Homo sapiens: one gene and its partners. The protein of the gene in region 6 purifies or fractionates together with the protein of the main gene of each other region. This does not show direct contact. Each region holds a gene or a part of one and is shown on either strand. Other genes may lie near its edges.

Region 1 (3,500 bases), on a different chromosome or scaffold from region 6:
TTTATTTTCCCTTGCTTATTTAAAGGAAACAGTGCCACACATAATGCTGTGCAAATAAGCAATCAACATTTACTGTTTGCTAAATGAATGAATATGATGCCTAATCCCTCCTGGTTACCTTGTATTTTCATAATCACAATTTCCCAGAAACTGTGAAATTACTGGGATTGTTTTAAGTAGTTTGGTGATGGTTCCAATTTTCAACAATAAAATATAATTAATATCAGAGCCAATCGATTTGCTCTTTTTTACCTCTGACTGAGTTGGCTGGTGCTCATGCAGTCCAAGTATAGTGTTAAGATAGGCAAATTGAGGCAGGAGGATTGCTTGAGTCTCAGAGTTTGAGACTATAGTGCACTGTGACTGAACCTGTGAATAGTCACTGGAATCCAGTTTGGGCAACATAGTGAGACCTTGTCTCTTTAAAAAAAAAAAAAAAGATATGAGAGTAACCTCTGAACTTCAAAATAGAAAATTTTTAAAAGTAAATATTCTTTGATTTAAGTAGGCTTTTTTACTACAGTGTTTGTACCTTTGTATGATATAGTTTTTCTTGTGTAGATAAGTCCTGTTAAAGAAAATATAATATCCTGTTTTACAATGTGAAGTTAGTAAAGATTTACAGAACTTTGTTTCCTTTAAGAAGGTTTTACTGAATTCTTAGCTAAATTAATCCCATTTAAAGATTGATTTACATGCAATAATATTCAGAAATATTTAATATATAAAGTAAATCTTAATTGGACAGGTTCTTGAGGTGAATTACCATACCCAAGAATTAGCTCCTGATCAGTAAGACAATTCTGGGAGGACCAGTTATAGGAATTGTGAATTATAGGGACTCTCTCATGCTCTACAAAATCTGCCAAATAATTAAGATCTGTTTTTCCCAGTACATTAAAAATAACATTTTTCTCTCTTGTAGTGTGACTGTGGGAAGATGGAGGAGTATGAGAAGTTCTGTGAAAAAAGTCTTGCCAGAATACAAGAAGCATCACTATCCACAGAGAGCTTTCTCCCTGCTCAGTCTGAAAGTATCTCACTTATTCGCTTTCATGGAGTGGCTATCCTTTCTCCACTGGTAAACTTGCTTTGTTTTTAAATAGTTTTTTTCTGTAGTGAACAACTAAAACAGTTCGTGGAAAAACAAAAGAAAGGCTTATAAACATTTGAAGAGATGCCCTCATTCAGAATTAGAGAAATACAAATGAATTAGCATTTTTTACTTACTATTATAGATTGGCCAAGACCTAATAGAACTTTGTGTTCCTTAGATTGTGGAGAAAATGCACTTTTAATGCACTTTTGCTAAGAGAATCAGTTTATTTTATTTCTAGATGAGCAGTTTGGTAGAATTTAAAAGCATACATAGCCTTTGGGTCAGCAGTTCCATTTTTGGGTATATCCTACAATTATATGTGAGCCCAAAGAAATAAGTACAAAGTTACATTAGCATTGTTTAAAATAGCAAAGGTTGACGAACCACCTAAATGTCCATCAGTAGTGGAGTAGTTTAACTATGGTCTATTTTATAAACTCTCATACATACCATTACAGTAAGGCAGATGTAAATGTTGAGGCATGGAAGGATCTCAATGATCTAGTGTAAAACACCGTGTGCAGCATGCTGTCAGGGGCAGTATAGAGTCATGATTAGAGGTCCAGACTCTGGGCCAGGCACAGTGGCTCACACCTATAGTCCCAATGCTTTGAGAGACCGGAAGGAAGAGGATTGCTTGAGACCAGGAATTCAAGACTAGCCTGGTCAACATAGTGAGACCTCATCTCTATAAAAACATGTTAAAAAATTAGCCTGGCGCAGTGACATGTGCCTGTAGTCCCAGCTCTTCAAAGGCTAAGGCGGAAGGATCGCTTGAACCTAGGAGTTGCAGGCTGCAGTGAGTCAGGATTGCATCATTGCCTGGACTACAGAGAAAGACCCTATCCCAAAAGAAGGAAAAAAACTCCAGCCTGGGCTAACAGAGCAAGACCCTATCCCAAAAGAAGGAAAAAAAAAGTCTAGGCTGTGGAGCCTTCTGGCCTGGGTCCAAATCATTGCTTTGCTACTTACTTGCTGTGTAAACTTGTGGTCCATTTTCTTATTTGTTAAATGGGGATAAAATAGTGCCTACCTCATAAGGCTATTTTGAAGATTAAATGAATTCGTAGATATAAAATGGTTAGAATACCACCTGGATCATAAGAGGTACCCAATATAAGTTAACCATTTGGGTTTTTCAAAGGATGGCTATTCCTTTTCTGGGGAGTGGTGAGAGAATATAGGATAATAGGGAAGACACTTCATCATACACCCTTTGATACTAATTGGATATTTTAAAAATGCATATGACTTTATTTTAAATCACAAACTAATATTAGAAAAAAGTGAGCTTTAAATTTATTTTTTGGTATAACAGGAGTTAAGAGATTAATTTTAATTAATTGAATTGAATTTTTAAAGACACCAGAGCTAACTGCCAACTTTTTGTAATGAAACTTTCAAACATACAGCAAAGTTGAAAGGATAGTGCAGTGACCACCCATAGATTTACCATTAGATTAAATAATTTTTAACATTGTTGTCATCTTTGCTTTATTGTGTTTGTGATTTTTATATACATCTATGTGTGTGTGTACATATGACATTTTTAAAAATTGCCTAGCTATTTGAAAACCACGGAGACCTGACACTGCTCCCCTAAATATTTTGGTGTACATCTCTTAAAAATAAGGACATTCTCCTATGTAAAGCCCCAATACCATTATCACATCTTAAGAAAACTAATAATTTTTAATAATATCTAATAATTCTGTTCATATTTAAATTTTTCCATTTGTGCTCAAAATGCCTTTTATAACTTTATTCCCCCAATCTGGATCCAAAGTTCACAATTAGTATTTGCTTGTTATGTTTCTTTATTTTAATCTAAAATAGCTACTGTACGTCTTAAAAACAGTTTTTTTTATTGGTTGAGCATGGTGCCTCACGCCTATAATCCCAGCACTTTGGGAGGCTGAGGTGGGTGGATTGCATTGCTTGATCCCCAGAGTTTGAGACCAGTCAGGGCAACGTGGTGAAATCTCATCCCTACAAAAAATACAAAAAAGAGCTGGGTGTGGTGGCGCGCACCAGGAGTCTCAGCTGCTCTAGAGGCTGAGGTGGGAGGATCACCTGAGCCCGGGAGGCTGAGGCTGCGGTGAACCCTGATCATGCCACTGCACTCCAACCTGGGTGACAGAGTGAGATACTGTCTTTAAAAAAATAACAAAACTATGATACTGAATTTTTAAAGAGACCAGAGCTATTGTCTTGTAGAATTCCTTAGATCTTGGATTTGTCCCATTGTTTCCTAATAGTGTTATTTAACTTGTTTCTCTAGTCCCTGTAGTTCCTATGAACTGGAAGTGAAGTTTGATAAACAGGTTAAAGATTTTTGGAATTCTTTGAAGATAGGGCTGGGCGGGGTGGCTCATGCCTGTAATCCCAGCACTTTGGGAGG
Region 2 (3,500 bases), on a different chromosome or scaffold from region 6:
AACTGTATTCTTTTCATTCACTTAGACAAATAGCCATTGAGGCCTCACAGCACATGGCACACAGTGCTAGGCATTGTGGTGGAAAGAGGAACGAGTATGGCTGGTTCCTTAATTTTATTCCTAGGGAAATGAAAACATATGTCCACCCAACAATTGCATGTGAATGTTCATAGCAGCATTACTCATAATAGCTCAAACGTGGAAGCAGCCCCAGTGTTCATCACCTGAAGATGAATAAACAAAATATGGGGTATCCATACAATGGAATGTTATTTGGCCAGAAAAAGGAATAAATTACTGATAGATGTTATAACATGGATGAACCTTGAGAACATTATGCTAAGTGAAAGAAGTCAATCATAGCAGATCACATGTTATATAATTCCATTCGTATGAAAGTCCGGAACAGGAGAATATACAGAGGCTGGAAGTATACTAGTGGCTGGGGGTGGGTGGGCTGCCTAGGGGGATGGTAGCTGGAGTCCAGGGCTGCTTTTTGAAGTGATGAAAATGTTCTAAAATTGACTGTGGTGGTGGTTGCATGCATCTGTGAGTATAATAAAAACTGTTGAATTGAACACTTTAAATGGGTGAATTATATGGTGCATGAATTATATCTCAATTAAAATGTTTTAAAAAACAAAAAGGAAAAAGATGGCCTGTTCCTTGGCCTCTGGGTGCTTACAATTGCATGAACAAGATTAGGATATAGGCTGAAACTGTTACAATATTAACCCCACCCATACATTTGTTAATCTCAGGAGAGAAGTCTTGATTGAAACCATGAAGGGAGGTTGCCCCTTTTAACTCCTATTACCTTTAGATTATGTTATTTTTAGAAGCTTTTTTACCCCTGATGCTCAAAGTAATACAAGCTCATGGCAGCAATTTGATCAGTACTGAAAACTATAGTGAATAAGAAAGAAGGGGAGAATGTCCTTGTTTGAACCAGGAACCAGGATCGGAAAGATGACACAGGTATTTCCAGTGTGCGAATAAGAAAGACGGTTTTACCATCAAACCCCACATTAGATTTATTCAGGTTGGACTCAAATCACAGCTCCACCCTGTACCGACTGCATGACATTGGGCAAGTGATTTTTCTTGCCAAGTCTCAGTTTTCCCACCTCTAAGATGAGGGTAATAGTATACAAGGCTATTGTGAGAATGAAATGCGAGAATCCAAGTGTGGGTCCAGTCCGCGGTGGTCCTAAGCACGCACGTGGGAAACCCGGGACACCAGGGGATGTAAATGACCACGCGCCTGGCACTGCCTCACATCCATGCAGGGTGTGCACAGGGACCACCCTCCATGAACTGCTCACCCCAGTGATCGAGCTCGGTGGGATCAAGGCACAGCAGTCAGCAATCTCTGGAGCTGGAGGAAATGTTAGAGACTATCTAGTCCAAGCTCTTCTTTACAGAAGAGGAAGCTGAGGCACAATGCAGCACCTCTTCTCGGTTCCTGCATGTACCTGACTGTTCTGCAGCATTTGAATTCTGCAGTCGGGAATTATTTTTTTTTTTTGAGACAGGGTCTGGCTATGTCACCCAGGCTAGAGCGCAGTGGCATGATCACTGCAACCTCCACCTCCTGGGTTCAAACAATTCTCCTGCCTCAGCCTCCCGAGTAGCTGGGATTACAGGCACCCACCACCATGCCCAACTAATTTTTGTATTTTTAGTAGAGATGGGGTTTCACCATGTTGGTCAGGCTGGTCTCAAACTCCTGGCCTCAGGTGATCCACCTGCCTCAGCCTCTTAAAGTGCTAGGATGACAGGCATGAGCCACCGCACCCGGCCTGCGGTTGACAATTCTTTGCGTGAAACACCTTCCTAGATGGCTTTGTACCTCCTTTCCCAGTCTTTCCTTTCTCCTCTCCATCACCTCCCTCTCAGGGTTCTTGATTGGCCTGTATTCTTCCACTGGCCTTTTAAACTCGATTTTCAGTTCTCCTCTCTATTGGAGTCACTCCTTTCCCAGGCGACTTTCGCCCTTTGACTGATGACTCCAGGATCAGCGCCTCTAGCCCTAATCTCTCCTCTGAGTTCAGATCTTATTTCCAGCTGCCTGTAGTCAACTTCCCACGGATCTCCCAAGGCATTTCAACTTCCATTGTAGCTTAAACCAAACTCATTTTGTCTATCCTTAAATCCACTCCTCATCCTGTTCCTTTGTCTCAGTGCATGGCATCACACGGATTAGAGAAAATCCAAAGTCACCTTTGAGGGCCCATCAGTCTTTTTTACTCTCAAATACTACCAAGTCCTGCCTGTCTCACCTATGAGACAACTCTTTTACCTGTTCCTCTTCTTCATTCCTTCTGTCACTGCCTAACAGGTCCTAAGTGTTTTTAGCCTTCACCCCGATACCAGGCTCTGATCTCTGCAGTCCACCCTGGGAAGCTCGCATGTGTTCACTTCACACCATACTTTAAATACCTTTAGTGATTCCTCTTGACTCCTAGAATTACATCAGAATCCCTTATGGTGGCATCGAGACTTCCCGCAGTTTGGTGTCATGCTACTCTTCTAGATCCATCTCTGCACAGAGCAGCCCAAGGCTTACTCACCTAATCTCAGCCACACTTGTTAAGTTTCTGCTTCCTCTGTTTTGGCACAGCACACTATTTACATGTATGTTTCTAGGATCACTGCAGTGATTATCCAAGACTGCAGTAGTGACATTCTGAGCCCGACACCTGGGCTCTAGGGAGTGGCCACTACATGGCAGTGTGTGCTGTTACAGTGTCACTTACTGCTGTCTTGCTCTGGTTGGTGTGTGGACCTAGATGATGGCTGCCACCCAGCTGAGCCATCAGGATCCTGAAGGAACAAGATCGTGCAATGCATTTTGATGGAAGGGTTGAGAGTAGGAAAAATCTAGGCCATGGGGATGGGAAATGAATGGAGGGAAACTAGCTGGAGATGGGGTAGAGAAAAAAAAGGGAGCCCTGGCAAAAAAATGTGAGCTGTTTAACCCTCCTTCTGCTCCAGCACCAGCCCTCAGAGTCAGCTTTGGAAAGACAGAGAGGCGACTTGGAAAGACAGGCCTGAGCAGGGGTCTGATGTGACAACCATGTTCCAAACCTTTGGGTCCTTGAACCGTTCACTTAACCTCAAAGAGTATTTTCACCTCTACAGCTCTGGGAACATTTAGCTGTTTGGTTTCAATTGGAGAAACAGAATTCTAGGAGGATCTCACTTGCAAAAATAGCAGGAGTGAGTTGCCTGCCTGGTGCTGGCTTGGTTTCAACACTGGGATTCACGTTGTCCTCCTTCATTTCCTCCCGGAGCTTCGCCTCCATCGTGGGAATCCAATTACTCATTCTATGACACTATTATGATTTTTAAAAAAAAACTTCGGAGTGTCAGAAATCTCACTTCAAAAGGGATTTCTTTTTCTTGTAAATATCTCTTGAGCCTACCTCTTTCTTTCCATTCAGGCCACTCCTGTCCCAGACGAGGGCCTTGGCCTCTCAGGCCTGGATCCTGGCAGG
Region 3 (3,500 bases), on a different chromosome or scaffold from region 6:
CATTTCCTTATGCCCCTAAAGCAAAAAGAAAAATTCAAAGTTCTGAAAATCATTCCAGCACATATCACTAAAGCTCAAATGCATACACTAGAATTTTACGTCCTCAAATACCTGAATTTGTATGATGTATTTCGCTGAATACATCGCTTTTCCAATTAATAAAATTCTTAGCTAAATGATGAAAAAATAATCAATGATGTAAAGTTACAGTTAAAAAATTCTAATACTCATCGAAATTTTCTTCTTCAGCTATTTTAAGGATAAACACTAAATGAGATGCTAGTTTACTATAACTACCACTGGTTAATATTTATTACTATCTAGTACATGCAAAATTCTCTCTCTCTCTCTCTCTCTCTGTATATATATATATACCATCTCATTTAATCTTCATAATAACCCTGTTACAGAAGATAAAATTGTTAGGTAACTTGTCCATGGCCACTGAGGTAATAAAAGGAAAACCAAGCAATGAAGGCAATGACATTCCAGAGTCTGACCACTTAGCCACTTAATAGGGATAAATGCCTAAATAATTATGTAAGAGGTTACAGTACAATAAATCTATACCTGGAACCACTACTTTTCCCACTGCTCCTCAGACCTCCAACACAATTTGCCAGTGATTCCACAAGGTACAAGGGAAACTGCCTCAGCATTCATTTTGGAAATAAATAGTGCTCAGTAGCAGAAACTCCACTATCCTCTTTACAACGTGAAAAAGGAGAGATAACAAGATCCTAGGTATTCATAAGAAAGTGGGAGATTTTATAGATAACATCTGAGAAGGTCCAATTTCTACCAGGCAACAATACTCTCTGCCACTTAGCAGTGTTCAGAAACATTTTGACAACAAGCAATGTTTTCAATACTGGGACAAAAATTTTCCTTATGAGTTGATCTGTAAAATCACAACAAAAATTTACCATATATACATCATTCTCTTGACAAAAATTTATTTTACAAATTCTTAAAGTTCTCTTTGTGAAGTGACACACCCCAATGCCTTTACACAAAGTGTGTCCATTTAAAGGGACATAAATCAAACTATCGAGTATACTTATTTCCTATTTAAAACTTTACATGACATTATCCTTTATTTAAAATGTATGAAAGACATATTCTAAATGAAAAATTTTAGGTGATCAACAATAGTAACAAAAACAAGAAAGTTACAAATAAATAATTTAAAAGGATGAGGACATAGCAGAAATCAGAAAGAGCATCCGAAGAACCTGGGATGAGCGTATTACTTCAACCAATAGTCAATACAGCTGTATCGCTTTTGGGTGCCAACACCAAATCATGAAAAACACAATAAGTTACAAATAGAAGTTCTTGGTTTTTGATCAAAAGCAAACTGGTTTGGTTCATGTGGTAGTAAGAAGGCTAGAAGGGACTTCACAGTCATCAAACACAAGAAAGCTTTATGAAGAAACAGTGATTAGCTTTCTTCCATCTTCATAAAACAAACAAGAGAAAAAGGGTTAAAGCACTACAAGCTGTGAAAATATTATTATAAAGGATCACCAAGGAAAAAAACAAAGATTTGTTGGGAACAGAATAGAAAGAAAAGAAGCATTAATGACTTAAGAGTTAACTAGGAGTGAGCCCACCCTTATATAAGCAAAGTTCCTCAATTTTATGATTTGCTGCCTTAAATTCCACAAATTAAAAAGAAATGTTTGTAAGTACTCTTCTTATACATAAGTGATAACCAGCACTTCTGATCCATATATCCTAAGATTTTGTAGTCATAAATATAAGATTTTTTTAATGCCTATACAAAATGTAAGAATAACTTTTTAAAGAGATATTTCTATACCATAAATTAGTATGCAGGAAATTGTTTCAAGATTATTAAATCATACAGAACAAAATTGGGCAGGACCTACTGTTTAGAAACTTCACTTTGAGCTAAATGGGGGGAGACAGGGGATCTGGCAAGGTTTCTTTAAAAGTACAGTTTTATAAATAAAAAAATTAATTTCTAAAAGTTAATACGTTAGCACAAAATATTAATGCAAAAAGTTAATATAAAAGTTTTTATTCTAAAAAAGCATTTTACCTGCCTACAATGATTGCAAATAACTTCTGTACTGGTTTAAGAATCATCAACAAGAGAGGAACCGGAGCAGCTTGAAACCGTGGAGAAGTATGGAAATTCCTAATAGCTCTTATGGAAGCAGGGCTTAGAGGATGCAATACTGACAGACTAGGGACTGCTGTAACTTCTTTTATTAGCAGCTGTCTTGAAAAAGCATCATTCCATACAGTACATTTGCTGGTAATCCTCCAAATTTCCTTACTTTTGGTACTTGAGAGGCCTCCTGTTCTTTTGTTGTTAAAAGTACTATAAAAATGAAAGTTTCCAGGCAGAAAACTCCACCTGTCACACTGATTTACTCCCAGTCCCTGATACTTATTTACTATATGGTTAACTTGTACTTGATGACAGCCCCGTGAGGTGGATGCTAATGTGTTACATTTTCTCCAGTTAGACAGTGAATTAAATCGGAAGAAAACATGGTTTCTAGCAGCAGACTGCAATCCACAGATGAAGCTCATTTTTTCACTTGACTACCTGAAACAAAAAAAAAACTATAAATATCTGTGGAAAATATTTACTTACCAAACTGGGACTATAACACTTATTAAATAGGCGTGTCAGTTGTTCTTCTAACACATCTCAGGCTAAATTACCTTGGGTTTCAACTCATCACCCCTAGAGCAACGCCTTTCAGCAAGATAAACCAGAGTATATATACCACGATATTTACTATGCAACGTTTACTTTAGAAGCTTGAATTTTTTTCATTTCATTTTTAATTTTTAGTTAGGGAAGAGCCATTTGTATTTTAATGGCAAATGATTTGAGCAATAAAGTGGATTAGATAAAAACAACAGTAAAACTTTATCAGTTTGCAATAACTGGAAGGAAGCATGTGATACAGAATAGTAAAATCTAACTTATAAAATGCACTGGACATTACGCAATGAAGAACAGTGATCCCTAACAGATGGGAAACAGAGCCCTACAACTGTCCTAGCTTATTGCCTGGAGAGTGCTTCCAGGCCACAATGCAGACAGGGTAAACCTAGGTGGAGCCCAGTGGTTCCCCTAAATCGAAGAGATAAAGCTGGGAGGTCAAGTAAACCAAGGTTGCTAGAGCTCACAGGACAGAGGACAAGAGAAGACAAGAGCTGCACAGAGAAATAACTCTAGAGTTCTGCAGAGAATCCCCCTCCCATATTCAGCTGAGTCCTGTCTGGGCATATGTGTAAGAAAATTCCCTGGAGCTGGGAAAGGGCCACCTGAAAAGATTGCAGGGAATAATATACAGGGCTCACACAGGGCATGGTATACTGCCTATCCCCTCCCCACCATTCAAAGTGGAAAACCTTATCATTCGTGGGTAGAGTACTCAGAAGGGTTTTGCCTCAACATTAGAGAAAGATTAGTCTGAGACCGAAAGCTGCTCTGGCCCCACCTAACAAAT
Region 4 (3,500 bases), on a different chromosome or scaffold from region 6:
ATTAAGAAACCTTGTTAATGAAAAACTAGAATTTACATCCTAAATAGCATCTTCATATTTAGAAGAAACCTTTGCCAATTGTGAGAATAAATAGCCTGGATTCCAAATTGAACCTTTCCTACCCCTCACTCCCAGCTTGTATGAGCTTTGGTGGCTTCACTGAATGGCATGGTAGAGGATGAAACATGTATTAGGACTTTTTTTGGAGACGGGGTCTCACTCTTGTCACCCAGACTGGGGTGCAGTGGTACAGTCATAGCTCACTGCAGCCTCAAACCCCTGGGCTCAAGGGATCCTCCCACCTCGGCCTTCTGAGTAGCCATGACCACAGACGTGCGCCACCATGCCCGGCTAATTTATTTATTTTTGAGACGGAGTCTCTCTGTCGCCCAGGCTGGAGTGCAGGGGTAGGATCTTGGCTCCTGCAACCTCTGCCTCCTGGTTTCAGGTGATTCTCCTGCCTCAGCCTCCTGAGTAGCTGGGATTTCAGGCGCGTGCCACCATGCCCAGGTAATTTTTGTATTTTTAGTAGAGACGGGGTTTCACCATGGTGGCCGGGCTGATTGAGAACTCCTGACCTCAGGTGATCTGGCCACCTCAGCCTCCCAAAGTGCTGGGATTACAGGTGTGAACCACTATGCCCAGCCTGTTTTTAATTTTTTTAGAGATGGGGTCTTGTCATGTTGCCCAGGCTGGTCTCAAGCAGTCCTCTCACCTGGCCCTGTATTGGAGTTCTGAAAACATGATTCCTGAGCTAGTTCTTTTTATTTCCCTAGATACCTTTTCTTTCCTTGCCCCCAAATGTGGGTATCTGCATGCACAGGCAGGCAAACACCTTATTTCTGAGGTCAGATTTTACTATATCCCAAATTTAGGCCTAAACTGTTGCTCCCATGGGCAGTTTTTTACACTACTATCCTTGAAGAAGAAGGAAACTAAGTTTGAGGTTGTGCATTTGAATCAGAAGTGAATAGGTGGGGTCTGTTCTGTATTTCCAAGCTCATGAGTGGAGTTGTGCACTTTTATTTGATATACTTAGTCTACTAGGGGTTCTGGGAGTTCAGCAAGCCAAAAAGCAGTGACTAACCATCCTTAGTTAAGCTCTGACCAAACAAGGGTTTTTAGGTTTAGCAGTTTTCATATTCCTAATTCAAGTTCACAGTCTAGAAAAAAATGGGTTTTCCTCCTAACTTGGTTTGGGATGTAAGGACTAAATTTTGCTATTTGTAGCAATACTGGGACAAATACTTTAGATTATGTAGGCCCCATGTGAACATCTGGCAGCTTGAATCTGTATCAGAAAATGTCTAATTACTGTTTATTATCTCTAAACTGGGATTACCTCCTTAAGGGACTGTTGTGATTAATTAAATCATAAGAGATATGAAGGTGCTTTATAAACTGGAGAGTATTAAGCACACTTAGGTTCTTGTTAATGAAAGTGAGATGGTGTCTCTGTCTTGAAATATACCTGGGATTCGTTTTAACCAAGTATGGTAAGGTGACAGACCTGGAGACAACCGCCTTTGAAAGAAGAGTTTATTATTACTTAAATTTCCTGAAAGAGAGGGATATGCCACACAAAAAAATGCAGAGCTATATGGGGAAGTGTCTGAGCTCGTCAGGAGGCAGAAGGTATGAGGGGAAGGAAGCATGGCTCAGCACCTTGGTTTCTATGGGAAGGAATTGGTGGGCAGCGTAGGTACACTTGCTCAAATTTAGGATTGGATAGTTTGAATAATTTCGTTGGGCTCTAGCTTATAGGGCTGGTTCCTAGTTGTCCTATATTTGTCCCTGGGGTGATTTAGAGAAGGGGAAACAGGAGCTTAGTGTACAAAACTTAGATAAAGGAGGCAGGGCCAGGCTGAGTGGCTAATGCCTATAATCCCACCACTTTGGGAGGCCAAGGTAGGAGGATTGATTGAGCCCAGGAGTTTGAGAGCAGCCTGGGCAACATAATGAGACCTTGTCTCTACCACAAAGAAAATTTTTAAATTAGCCAGGCATGTGGCGTGTGCTTATAGTCCTAGCTACTCAGAAGGCTGAGGCAGGAGGATCACTTGAGCCCAGGAGTTTGTGGCTGCAGTGAGCTATGACAGAGCAAGACTCTGTCTCTTAAACAAAAGATAAAGGAGGCAGTTTGCTACAAGCACTTTGGATAGTTACGTTGCATATGAAAGGTATGCTCGCAGGCAAGTTTGCTGTCTAAAAATTAGCCCTGGAAGAGCAGGATTAGCTCCAGGATTAGCAAGGCCTCTAAAATGTAAAAACATCATAAAACACAGAAAACAAAATAACATCGTTAATAGTGTCAGTGTCTATCGTCAGTAATTACATCAGTATGATCAGGAATAAATATGTCATAAAATTGCTGCTGACATTAATTTTGTTTTCCTTTTGTAGGAGGAAGAGGAAGAGGAGGAATTAGTGGTAAGAACTGTCTCAGGTTTGGAAACATCTCAGTAAAAGCAGGGTTTGAGCTTCATGAAATTCTAAGGGCATTTTAAGGAGTTTTTACTTGATACCTTGTAGATAATGGGGGTGGAATAAGCTTTGATACTTCCTGTGCAGTGGAGAGTTTAGGGTGTGAGCCTTGGAAGCTGAGTCTGTTCTGGGTTTGGGGCTTCTTCAGTTGTGGTACCAGGGAGCAGATGGCATCTTGAGGGCCTGGCACTCAATCATCTGCTATTTGTGGTTTAATAAAGAACTTTGGGCTAGGCATGGTGGCTCGTGCCTGTAATCTCAGCACTTTGGGAGGCCAAGGCAGGCGGATTACCAGCCTGAACAACGTAGAGAAACCCCATCTCTACTAAAAATACAAAATTAGCCGGGCGTGGTGGCACATGCCTGTAATCCCAGCTACTCGAGAGGCTGAGGCAGGAGAATTGCTCGAACCCGAGAGGCGGAGGTTGTGGTGAGCTGAGATTGCGCCATTGCGCTCCAGCCTGGGCAACAAGAGCAAAACTCCGTCTTAAAAAAAAAAAAAAAAAGAACTCTGAAGGAACCTTTGTTAGATAGTCCTTCTCTATGTTAGCATTGCCTTTCTAGTTGGGCAGCTGGGGTGCATAGGCCTGGTTCTCAGACAAGGGGATTTGAAGTTTCAGACGTGTCATATTCCAAAATGCTGTGTTAACAAGTAAGGCCTCCTATAGATCTACTTCAAGTTTGGCCAGGTTTCCTTTACCACCTTGTTTTTCAGATAGGACTGAGGCTTTCAGTGCATACTGGCAACCTTGGAAGGCAGGAATGTGAAACTTTTCCCTACTACTTAGCATCAGAATTGAATGGGAGACCGCATTCTGCCATTTCTGGCGGCAGTGTGGCTCTGCCAGCTGGCCTTCTGCACGGTAATTCAGAGGCAGCACCTTGGTTTGGTGGTTGTGTTAATCAAAGCATATGTGTTTGGTGGGTCTCTGCTAAAAATGCCCATTTTGTTTTTTTTCTGTTTCTACATCAGGATCCCCTAACAACAGTGAGAGAGCAATGCGAGCAGTTGGAGA
Region 5 (3,500 bases), on a different chromosome or scaffold from region 6:
CAAGCATCCATCAGCAGATGAGCAGATAAACAACATGTGGTATATACACACAAGGGAATACTATTCAGCTATAAAAAATCATGAAAATTTGATATTTGTCACAACATGGATGAACCTTGAAAATATTATGCTTAGTGAAGTAACTCAGTCATGGGAGGACAAATACTGTAGGATTCCACTTATATGAAGTACCTAGAAAAGGCAAATGTATATGAAGACAGAAATATTAGTGGTTGTCAGGGGCTGGGGGAAGTGAGGAATGACTGTTTAATGTGTACAGCATTTCCTTTTGAGGTGAAGAGTACGGTTTTTGTTTTGTTTTGTTTTTTGAGACGGAGTTTTGCTCTGTTGCCCAGGCTGGAGTGCAGTGGCATGACCTCGGCTCACTGCAACCTCTGCCTCCCAGGTTCAAGCAATTATCCTGCCTCAGCCTACTCAGTAGCTGGGACTACAGGCGCCCGCTAACACATCTGGCTAATTTTTGTATTTTTAGTAGAGACGGGGTTTCACCATGTTGGCCAGGCTGGTCTCGAACTCCTGACCTCAGGTGATCTGCCTGTCTGGGCCTCCCAAAGAGCTGGGATTACAGGCCTGAGCCACCGCGCCTGGCCAGAGTATGTTTTCAAACTAGAGGTGATGGTTACATAATACTGTGAATTTACTAAAGGACACCGAATTGAGCATTTTAAATGGTTAATTCTATGTTATATGAATTTTACCTCAATTTTTTAAAAAGGCATAAATACACTAAAATAAAAACGCCCTATGAGGAACATACAATGCCTGAGGTCCATGTATTTTATTATGGCAATTCAGGTCTGATATGATACAGAAGAGAAAGCCTGCACGTGTGTGTGTATATATGCGCTTACGTGTGTCACACATGACGTTTACATCCATATGATACCGCAAAACAGTCCAGCATAAACCTCACTGTCTGAACTTACCAGTGCAAACCTGTGTCCAAAGCTTATCCACTCCTTTTCTACGAGAGTTTCAAATCCTTTAATGGTCCTGTAGTAACTGTCCAACATTAGCATAGCCAGAGATGTGAGCTGGGCTGTTCGGTCCCAACCGTCGCTGCAATGCACCACCACAGATGTTTTCCCAGATTCTATTTTATCAGCAATTCTTACTGCCCCAGCAAGCAGCATCTTCAGAAAAAAAAGGCACATTAGACCAGGCTACATTGAATTTCAATTAAATGTAAAACAATGTAAAATAATTCTGGGGAGAGCTTTGGAAGTTCTGGTCAATAAACCAAGCAAGAATGGCAGGCAATCAGCTGAGAATCACTAGGAAATATTAGCATCACATTAAAAAAATAAAAAGAAAAGAAAAAATCTTATACTGGAGAAAAACTACAGGAGTAAATATGGTTCCTTATTAAAGGGCCACGAAGTTCTTTAAAAGCCTGACCTAAGGCAAGCATTTTTCCCTTTTCACTATGTCACAAAAGCCCTCCACAAAGACCCCAGTCTGATGCTGTCCATGGAAACTATTGAATAAGAAAGTTCATGCACACAGCCAAGAGGCACTTGGAGATATACGTATTTATGGCACAGGCACAAAGAAGTCTTAACTGGAAAGCATATAAAGTGCTGGATCTCTTTACCCTTATATATTCCAGCCAATGCGTCCCATCCACATTGGAGAGCCACCGCGCCTCATCGATCGAAGGGTACACAATCTCTTTTAATTTGCGTAGTGACTCTCGCATGACATGAATGTTGTGGATCTCCAAGAACACAAGTTCTGCATTTGGGTAAGCACTTTCACTTTCATATCCTCCACCCTTTGTCTACGAAAAACAAAACAAATACATCACATTATCTGGAATTAACTTTTCTATTCTTTCTAGTGCTATGAGATACAGACCACTAAAGAAGCAACAAACTCATCTGCAAATAAACCTCCTATATCCTTGTATGAGTTTCCTAGGGCTGCTGGAAAAAGAACCACAAACTCAGTGGCTTAAAACAACAGAAGTTTATTCTCTCCTAGTTCTGGAGGCTGGAAGTCTGAATTCAAGGTATCGGCAGTGCCATGCTTCCTCCGAACACTCTAGGGGAGGATCCTTCCTTGGCTGCCCCAGGTTCCGATAGTCCCAGGTGTTCTTGGCTTATACACACATCATTCTGATCTCTGCCTCCATTTCCACCTGACCTTCTTTCCTTTGTCTGTGTCTGTCTCTTCTCCTCTTCTTCTAAGGACACAGTCATTTGGCTTAACCCCCACCCCCCAATTCAATATGACCACATCCTAACTTAATTACATTTACAAAGACCCTATTGTGAAATAAGGCCACATTTATAGGTACTTGGAGTTAGGACTGCAACATATCTCTGAGCTAACAGTGGGATGTGCTTAAGGAACTGAAAAGAACCTCACATAGCTGAGACATGGACCTGGAAGATGTGGCGAGACAGGAAGGAAAGGACCCGTGGGTGGAGGGCTTTGGAGACCCTGTTCAGGAACCTGGATATCACTGCCTTGCGGCTCTGAGGGATGTGCACAGAGTTGTCCACTGAGAAGATCACTCTGTACAACATGGTGACTACAGTCAATAACAATGTAGTCTGTATCTGAAAACTGCTGAGAGTAGATTTTAAGTGTTCTCACCACAAAAAATGGTGTGTTAATTAGCTTGATTTAGCCATTCCACAATGTGTACACAATCAAAATACCACGTTGTACACCATAAATATATACAATTCATTTATCAATTGAAATAGTAACAATAAGTTTTTTTTAAAAAAGAAGATCACTCTGGTCATAATGTGGAGATGAGATTGCAGGGTGTGAGGCAGAAGTCCAATTTCAAGGTTCCTGCTGTAGGTGAGGTAAGAGATGATGGGTCATCCAAAAACTAGAAGAGGAGGGCATACTTCCTAGTTCATTCCATGAGGCTAGCTGTATCCTGATACCAAAGCTAGACAAAGACATCACAAGAAGAGAAAACCACAGATTAACATCCCTTATGAAAATACATGCAAATATCCTCAACAAAATACTAGCAAACCCAATCCAAGAGTATATGAAGGGGACTGATCACATACCATGAACGGGTGGGATTTATCCCAGGAATGTAAGGAGGTTTTATTAGCTTCCTAAGGGTGCTATCACAAACTGGGGGACTTAAAACAACATAAAATTTATTCTCTCACAGTTCTGGAGGCTGAAAGTCCGAGATCAGGGTGCTGGCAGAGTTGGTTCCTTTAGGAGGGTATAGGGAAGAATCTGTTCCATGTCTCTCTCTTAGCTTCTGGTGGTTGCTGGAAGTCCTTGGCACTCCTCAGCTTCTAGCTGCATCATTTAAATCTCTGCCTCTATTGCCACATCGCCATCTTCCTTCTGTGTGTGCCTGTGTCTCTACATGGCTTTCTTATACGGACACTAGGCACTGGATTTAGGGCCAACCCTACTCCAAGATGGCTTCATCATAATTAATACATCTGCAAAGATCCTATTTCTAAATAAGGTCACATTCTGAGGTTCCA
Region 6 (3,500 bases):
TGCTGTTCAAGGAGCCCACAGCAGAAGCAGCCTGCAAGGGATAAACCTGTGTTCTTTCTCATTCAGTTTTATCCAGCAAAACTCCATCAAAAAATTTTTTTTAATTGTTTTTTAAACTTGTTTTCTTTAAGTAAATATGTAGGTTGCATACCTTTCTGTATATTTTTAAAATATATCAGCAGTCACCTATAGGTGTATTTTACTGCATTTATGGTTTGTGGACTAAGACAAATGTGAACATTTTCAAGTATGAAAATGAACATAAAACATACTAATTTTGTAGACACAAAAGGACACGTCAAAAGTGAGGTGTGCAAGAAGAAACGTCCTAGAGTCTGGAATGAGACAGACCAGGGGGTAAAAATCCAGGGCTCCCGCTGGAGGTACCGCCACGTGTCAGCCCCTGACGGTATGAACCTCTAGGCTCATCTACAAAGGGAGGAAGAATAAATGCGGTAACGTAGGGCAAGCGCCTGGCACAGTGTGGGCACAAAGGTGCTTACTAAACCATAGGTCAGTTTTCTTAGGTAATATTTACAGAGAAAACGACATGGAATCTGCTCAGGCACAGCATCACTCTTTACCAAAACTCCATCCCAGCCCCAGGGCAGGAGAGCAGACACATAAACACATCAAAGCTTTGAAAAACCTGCTGAAATATGCGGCCAGGTGCGGTGGCTCACGCCTGTAATCTCATCACTTTGGGAGGCCAAGGCGGGCAGATCATGAGGTCAGGAGATTAAGACCATCCTGGCTAACACAGTGAAACCCCGTCTCTATTAAAAATACAAAAAAATTAGCCGGGCGTGGTGGTGGGTGCCTGTGGTTCCGGCTACTCGGGAGGCTGAGGAAGGAGAATGGCGTGAACATGGGAGGCGGAGCTTGCAGTGAGCCGAGATCGCGCCACTGCACTCCAGCCTGGGTGACAGAGCGAGACGACTCCGTCTCAAAAAAAAAACAAAAACAAAACCTGCTGAAATAATCAAATCATTATCCAACGTGTAGAATCTAAGTATTTATATACAGGTGTATGTGAGTCAGCTTCTGAGAAGTCTACAACCAAAAGAGTGGAAGTGCAGGCAGAGCGCGGCAGCGCCACACACACTCAGAGGGAAAAGGCCTGTGGTTAGCAGAGGCTGTTTCCACCTTGGTTCATTAAATGCACATGTAAGTTTCACACTTACAAAACAGTATCTTCATTCATATATGATTTTGCTCCATTTGGTATGTCTAGAGCCAGGACACCTCCAAGGCTAATTGTGGGCACTGGTAATACTGACACAGGACATAAATTATGCAAGGCATAAATTAGGGCACACGGTCACCCCACTGAGAGCACACGCTGGCTCTTCAAATAAGATAAATAAACCATCACTCCTTCAGCAACTGGATGGCACCAAGCAATGACTCCAAACAGCAGGAAATGGAAGAACAGAGACAGCTTTGGAACAGAGTGACACGTCACACCCTAGTCCATACCTGCCATCTACTAGTCAGGGCAACTTGGTCAAATCAATCAAACTTGCTGAGGTTCAATTCTCACATCTGCAAAATGGGGACAATTAATGCTTGCCCTGATCATTTTAGAAGGCTGCTATGATAATCGATAAGGAGAAAGAAGATAAAAGAAGAGCCTCTAAAGTCCAGTACTATAAACAGCAGTCCCCGACCTTTTTGGCACCAGGGACTGGTTTTGTGGAAGACATTTTTTCCACGGACCAGGGTGGGATGGGGGGGCAGAGTGGTTTTGGGATAAAACTGTTCCCACCTCAGATAATCAGACATTAGATTCTCATACGAAGCATGCAACCTAGATCCCTTGAATGCACGGTTCACAACAGGGATCACACTCCTATGAAACTAATGCCATCACTGATCTGACAGGAGGCAGAGCTCAGGCGGTCATGCCTGCTCGCCCTCCACTCACCTCCTGCCGTGCGGCCCAGTTCCTAACAGGCCATGAACCAGTACCGGTCCACAGTCCAGGAACTGGGGACCCCTGCTATAAAACATAATATGATACTACTATAGTGATGATCAATCCATCTCCTGGAATAAAATATCTACATAATGGTTTAGTTATCCTGTATTGATTTTGTGTGTGTGTTTTGCTTCATGTCTATCAAGTTGACTGGGACCTATCAGTGACACTTGCATAAGATGATGATATAAACCCAGACATGATAAAACACTCCCTTCGGGAAAAGGGACAGGGACTCTAAAATTACAGCTGGCTCCTGAGGGGACGGCCCACCAGTCCTACCTGCCTCGAGAAAGAGCCAGCTCACTCCTATCTGCCCTTGCAATGAGGGAGAGTGGTGGCTGGTCATCGAGCAATTCACTAGACTGGCAAACAGAACAGAAAACAGTACTAGACTGGGAAGCAGCATCTTTATACGCATTCTCTCCCCACCTTCACAATCCTAGAGGTAATCACTACCCCACTCTATGCAGGAAGAAACTTGTGGCCAACAGAAGATAACCTGGGCAAGATGACGTGACCATTACAGGAGAAGCCCAAACCAGAACCCTGGGCTGCCTCGCTTCAAAGCTCAAAGTGTGATGCCTACTCAGCAGCCACGCTGCCACAGCACACTCCTCCCCACCAGCCACGCTCCTCCCCACCAGCCACGCTCTTCCCCATCAGCCATGCTCCTACTCAGCAGCCACACTGCCACAGCACACTCCTCCCCACCAGCCACGCTCCTCCCCACCAGCCACGCTCTTCCCCATCAGCCATGCTCCTACTCAGCAGCCACGCTGCCACAGCACACTCCTCCCCACCAGCCATGCTCCTACTCACCAGCCACACTGCCACACTACTCGCCTACTCACCAGCCACACATTCTTACCCACCACCCACACTCCTCCTCACTAGCCACATTCCCAACCACCGGCCATGCTCCTACTCCCAGCCACGTTCTTACCCACCAGCCATGCTCCTCCCCACCAGCCACACTGCCACACCACATGCCTAATCACCAGCCATGTTCTTACCCACTAGCCACACTGCCACACCAAGTGCCTACTCACCAGCCACATTCTTACCCACCGGCCACGTTCCTGCCCACCAGCCACACTACAGCACCACACTCCTCCCCACCAGCCATGCTCTTCTCCATCAGTCACGCTCCTACTCACCAGCCACCCTCCTACCCACCAGCTACGCTGCCATAAGTCCTGTGCTACGCTGAGCTTATAGTACACAGTTGTTCTGTGATTCAATAATTTTTGGAGATTTCATTGGCAGTAATTACTGCCCAATAATCAACCTATGGACAAGACCACATGCTGCTTAGCCACAAAGAAGGGCTGGACAGTGGAGATGCCACGGCTCCTATTAGCTGCCCCCTGTCAGGCTCCAACAGGAGGAGAAGCAGCAGCAGCTCCCTCCCAACCATGCACTGTGCCATCGGCAGTGCCCACCCAGGGCTGTCCAGACAGCCATAGCCAGGATTCCCATCTCCAGCTTCGGCAGTGTTCCCAAATCCTGCCTCACC
Region 7 (3,500 bases), on a different chromosome or scaffold from region 6:
CCTGATCTGAAGACTGATGGTTTTGGCATTGACACATGTCGCAGCATGGTGGCCGTGATGGATGTATCCTTGGGGGCAGTGTGGGAGAGGCCCTGGGTGGACAGAGAGTTTTTTGAGAGTATGTTTGGGAAGCCAACATGTAGCTTTCATATCCACAGATGTGGAAATGCATTCATCAGAACACAGTCACCTGCAGACATGTGGCGGTAAATCATAACAATGCCAGCTGTCACAGCTGGCACTTTAATTATATAAAGTGACCGAACCGTCATAACCACCCTGTTGGACAGGCACAATTATTATATTCCATTTTACAGAAGAGGAAACTGAGGCTCAGTTTCCTGAAAGAAGCAGTCATTTGTCTCAAGTTATAGATAAAGGTCAGGCATGGTGGCTCATGCCTGTAATCCCAACACTTTGGGAGGCTAAGGTGGGCAGATCACCTGAGGTCAGGAGTTTGAGACCAGCCTGGCCAACATGGTGAAACCCCATCTCTATTAAAAATACAAAAATTGGCCAGGCACGGTGGCTCACACCTGTAATCCCAGCACTTTGGGAGGCCGAGGCGGGCGGATCACGAGATCAGGAGATTGAGACCATCCTGGCTAACACAGTGAAACCCTGTCTCTACCAAAAAAAAAAAAAAAATTAGCCGGGCGTAGTGGCGGGCGCCTGTAGTCCCAGCTATTCGGGAGGCTGAAGCAGGAGAATGGCGTGAACCCGAGAGGAGGAGCTTGCAGTGAGCCGAGATCGCGCCACTGCACTCCAGCCTGGGCGACAGAGCCAGACTCTGTCTCAAAAAATAAAATAAAAATAAAAATAAAAATAGGCCGGGCGCCGTGGCTCACGCCTGTAATCCCAGCACTTTGGGAGGCCGAGGCGGGCGGATCACGAGGTCAGGAGATCGAGACCATCCTGGCTAACACGGTGAAACCCTGTCTCTACTAAAAATACAAAAAAATTAGCCGGGTGCAGTGGTGAGCGCCTGTAGTCCCAGCTACTCGGGAGGCTGAGGCAGGAGAATGGCGTGAACCTGGGAGGCGGAGCTTTGCAGTGAGCCGAGATCGCGCCACTGCACTCCAGCCTAGGCGACAGAGAGAGACTCCGTCTCAAAAAAAAAAAAAAAGAAAAAAAAAGAAAAATAACAATAACAAAAATTAGCTGGGCGTGGTGGTGCACGCCTGTAGTCCCAGCTACTCGGGAGTCCCAGCTACTCAAGCAGGAGAATTGCTTGAACCCGGGAGGCGGAGGTTGCAGTGAGCAGAGGTTTCGTCACTGCACTCCAGTCTGTGGACTCAGGTCTTTTGGGCTTGAGAACCCACGTTTATAACAGCCACATGCGCATATACACACACACACACCTAAGAGCACACCCACATACGTGAAGGTGTATGAGGCAGTGTGCACAGGGACACACGTGTTATCTGTACATGGGCCAGCCATTAGCTGATCTTGGATACATGCATATTTTTATTTATTTTTGTTTTAAAAAATATTTTATAGAGAAAAGCTTTCACTATATTGACCTGGCAAGTCTCAAACTCCAGACCTTAAGCAATCCTTCCGCCTTGGCCTCCCAAAGTGTTGGGATTACAAGCTTGAGACACTGCGCCTGGCCTCATGCACATTTAACACATAGGGCAAACAGACACATACATAATATACATGTCATGTAATCACAGACATATTGCATAGAGCAAAGCAATCCCAACTCTACCTCTTAACCAGGTTATTGAACCGCTCTGTGCCTCAGTTTCTCTCTCTGTAAAATGGGTGAGTGATAATGGTGATACCGAATCGGAACTACATCCAAAAGGTTTAGCACAGTGTATAGCGCATAGTATGTGGTCTGTACACATTAGCTCTTAACTATGATCTTGGGTAGAGTTTTCAGCTTTGAATGTTTTCTTCTCTGGAAATAGTCCTGGTAGAACTGGTGTCCCAAGGATTTAGTGAGAAAGTGATGTTCCTGAGTGGACATCAGGTGGATCCTGAGTTCAAGCGATCCACCTGCCTTGGCTTCCCAAAGTGCTGGGATTACAGGCATGAACCACCATGCCTGGTCACACACTTGTTTTTCACATATCCTAACATTTTTATGAAATTGAGTTACTGTCAAGAATTTTCTTTTCTTTCTCTTTTTTTTTTTTTTTTTTTGAGACAGAGTCTCACTCTGTTTCCCAGGCTGAAGTGCGGTGGTGCCATCTTGGCTCACTGCTAACTCCACCTCCTAGGTTCAAGCAGTTCTCCTCCCTCAGCCTCCTGAATAGCTGGGATTACAGGTGTGCGCTACTACAGCTGGCCAATTTTTGTATTTTTAGTAGAGACGGGATTTCATCATGTTGGCCAGGCTGGTCTCGAACTCCTGACCTCAAGTGAACCGCCTGCTTCGGCCTCCCAAAGTGCTGGATTGCAGGCGGGAGCCACCGTGCGTGGCCTATTAAGAATTTTCTGAATGAGCAATTAACAACTCTTCAGGCAAGGAATTTGTACTTTAGAGTAGTTGAATATAATTCCTCATGGTTATGTTTAAAGAGAATCCCTATTTAGAAATGTAAGTGACAATATGTATGGATAAAATGAAAAATAAAACCGCACACCAGGTGATATGACTAGGACCAAGCGGGAGCTGGAGTTTCAGCCCTGGCTGCCCTGCTTGCTGTATCACCATCGTGTCCACAGTGCATGTGATGCATGCATCTGGGTGTAGCTGTCACTCTTCTTAACACCCTCCCACCAGAGCGACACCACAGGCAAGCTGGGCTTTGAGGAATTCAAGTACTTGTGGAACAACATCAAAAGGTGGCAGGTGTGTAGAAACCTCTGAAATCCCTGGCACCCAGACCCCCAAGCCATGGAGACACTATGCCCCACAATGCTCACTTGGACCCAATGTCTCTGTCCTCACAGGCCATATACAAACAGTTCGACACTGACCGATCAGGGACCATTTGCAGTAGTGAACTCCCAGGTGCCTTTGAGGCAGCAGGTATGGCTGGCAGGGACATGCTGGGGCTGGGAGTGGGATGGGTGAGAAAACCTCTACTCAGCTGGTCTGGGCCTGACTCCTGGGCATGGGAGTGGGTTGGGCCATGTGGCCCCCGCACCTGAAGGACTACATCCATCTTAGGGTTCCACCTGAATGAGCATCTCTATAACATGATCATCCGACGCTACTCAGATGAAAGTGGGAACATGGATTTTGACAACTTCATCAGCTGCTTGGTCAGGCTGGACGCCATGTTCCGTGAGTGACAACCCAGCTGTCTTCCTGGGTGGGGATTCCTATGACCTCTATGGACCAAGGTCTCCTCTAAGCCTGACTTTGAGGTGGGCGATGCTAGGGGCACAGTGGTGATTGAATCAGTTCCAGTTTCTGCCCTCATGGAGCTCACAGTCTGGTGGAGGAGACACAAGTCCCCAGACAGTGACAGTTCAGACTGGTGATGGCTGGGAGAGGGGAAGCTCAGGGCAGAGTGATGGGTTGTGATGGGGGCAGC

The links.
Region 1: the proteins of TUBGCP3 (region 6) and CCP110 purify together in Homo sapiens (co-immunoprecipitation; one large-scale study listed by IntAct). This does not show direct contact.
Region 2: the proteins of TUBGCP3 (region 6) and ANXA13 purify together in Homo sapiens (affinity purification with mass spectrometry; 2 studies listed by BioGRID and IntAct, with this or other methods). This does not show direct contact.
Region 3: the proteins of TUBGCP3 (region 6) and OMA1 purify together in Homo sapiens (affinity purification with mass spectrometry; one large-scale study listed by BioGRID and IntAct). This does not show direct contact.
Region 4: the proteins of TUBGCP3 (region 6) and UQCRH purify together in Homo sapiens (affinity purification with mass spectrometry; one large-scale study listed by BioGRID and IntAct). This does not show direct contact.
Region 5: the proteins of TUBGCP3 (region 6) and MTMR1 purify together in Homo sapiens (affinity purification with mass spectrometry, with the first as the bait; one large-scale study listed by BioGRID). This does not show direct contact.
Region 7: the proteins of TUBGCP3 (region 6) and CAPNS1 purify together in Homo sapiens (affinity purification with mass spectrometry, with the first as the bait; one large-scale study listed by BioGRID). This does not show direct contact.

The regions. Positions count from the first base shown.
Region 1 is NC_000016.10:19,526,942-19,530,441, forward strand, and holds part of CCP110 (centriolar coiled-coil protein of 110 kDa), read left to right. Parts: intron 1-925; 5' UTR 926-940; coding exon 941-1,081; intron 1,082-3,500.
Region 2 is NC_000008.11:123,702,894-123,706,393, forward strand, and holds part of ANXA13 (annexin A13), read right to left. Parts: intron 1-3,500.
Region 3 is NC_000001.11:58,536,727-58,540,226, forward strand, and holds part of OMA1 (metalloendopeptidase OMA1, mitochondrial precursor), read right to left. Parts: intron 2,585-3,500; 5' UTR 2,569-2,584; coding exon 2,069-2,568; intron 16-2,068; coding exon 1-15. UniProt on the Homo sapiens protein: Metalloprotease that is part of the quality control system in the inner membrane of mitochondria. Activated in response to various mitochondrial stress, leading to the proteolytic cleavage of target proteins, such as OPA1, UQCC3 and DELE1.
Region 4 is NC_000001.11:46,306,698-46,310,197, forward strand, and holds part of UQCRH (cytochrome b-c1 complex subunit 6, mitochondrial isoform 1 precursor), read left to right. Parts: intron 1-2,403; coding exon 2,404-2,430; intron 2,431-3,199; exon of another isoform or gene 3,200-3,284; coding exon of another isoform or gene 3,285-3,347; intron 3,348-3,457; coding exon 3,458-3,500. UniProt on the Homo sapiens protein: Component of the ubiquinol-cytochrome c oxidoreductase, a multisubunit transmembrane complex that is part of the mitochondrial electron transport chain which drives oxidative phosphorylation.
Region 5 is NC_000023.11:150,734,896-150,738,395, reverse strand, and holds part of MTMR1 (phosphatidylinositol-3-phosphate phosphatase MTMR1), read right to left. Parts: intron 2,933-3,500; coding exon of another isoform or gene 2,897-2,932; exon of another isoform or gene 2,695-2,896; intron 1,802-2,694; coding exon 1,616-1,801; intron 1,155-1,615; coding exon 948-1,154; intron 1-947. UniProt on the Homo sapiens protein: Lipid phosphatase that specifically dephosphorylates the D-3 position of phosphatidylinositol 3-phosphate, generating phosphatidylinositol. Could also dephosphorylate phosphatidylinositol 3,5-bisphosphate to produce phosphatidylinositol 5-phosphate.
Region 6 is NC_000013.11:112,550,154-112,553,653, forward strand, and holds part of TUBGCP3 (gamma-tubulin complex component 3), read right to left. Parts: intron 1-3,500. UniProt on the Homo sapiens protein: Component of the gamma-tubulin ring complex (gTuRC) which mediates microtubule nucleation.
Region 7 is NC_000019.10:36,143,066-36,146,565, forward strand, and holds part of CAPNS1 (calpain small subunit 1), read left to right. Parts: coding exon 1-63; intron 64-2,740; coding exon 2,741-2,809; intron 2,810-2,910; coding exon 2,911-2,989; intron 2,990-3,130; coding exon 3,131-3,247; intron 3,248-3,500. UniProt on the Homo sapiens protein: Regulatory subunit of the calcium-regulated non-lysosomal thiol-protease which catalyzes limited proteolysis of substrates involved in cytoskeletal remodeling and signal transduction. Essential for embryonic development.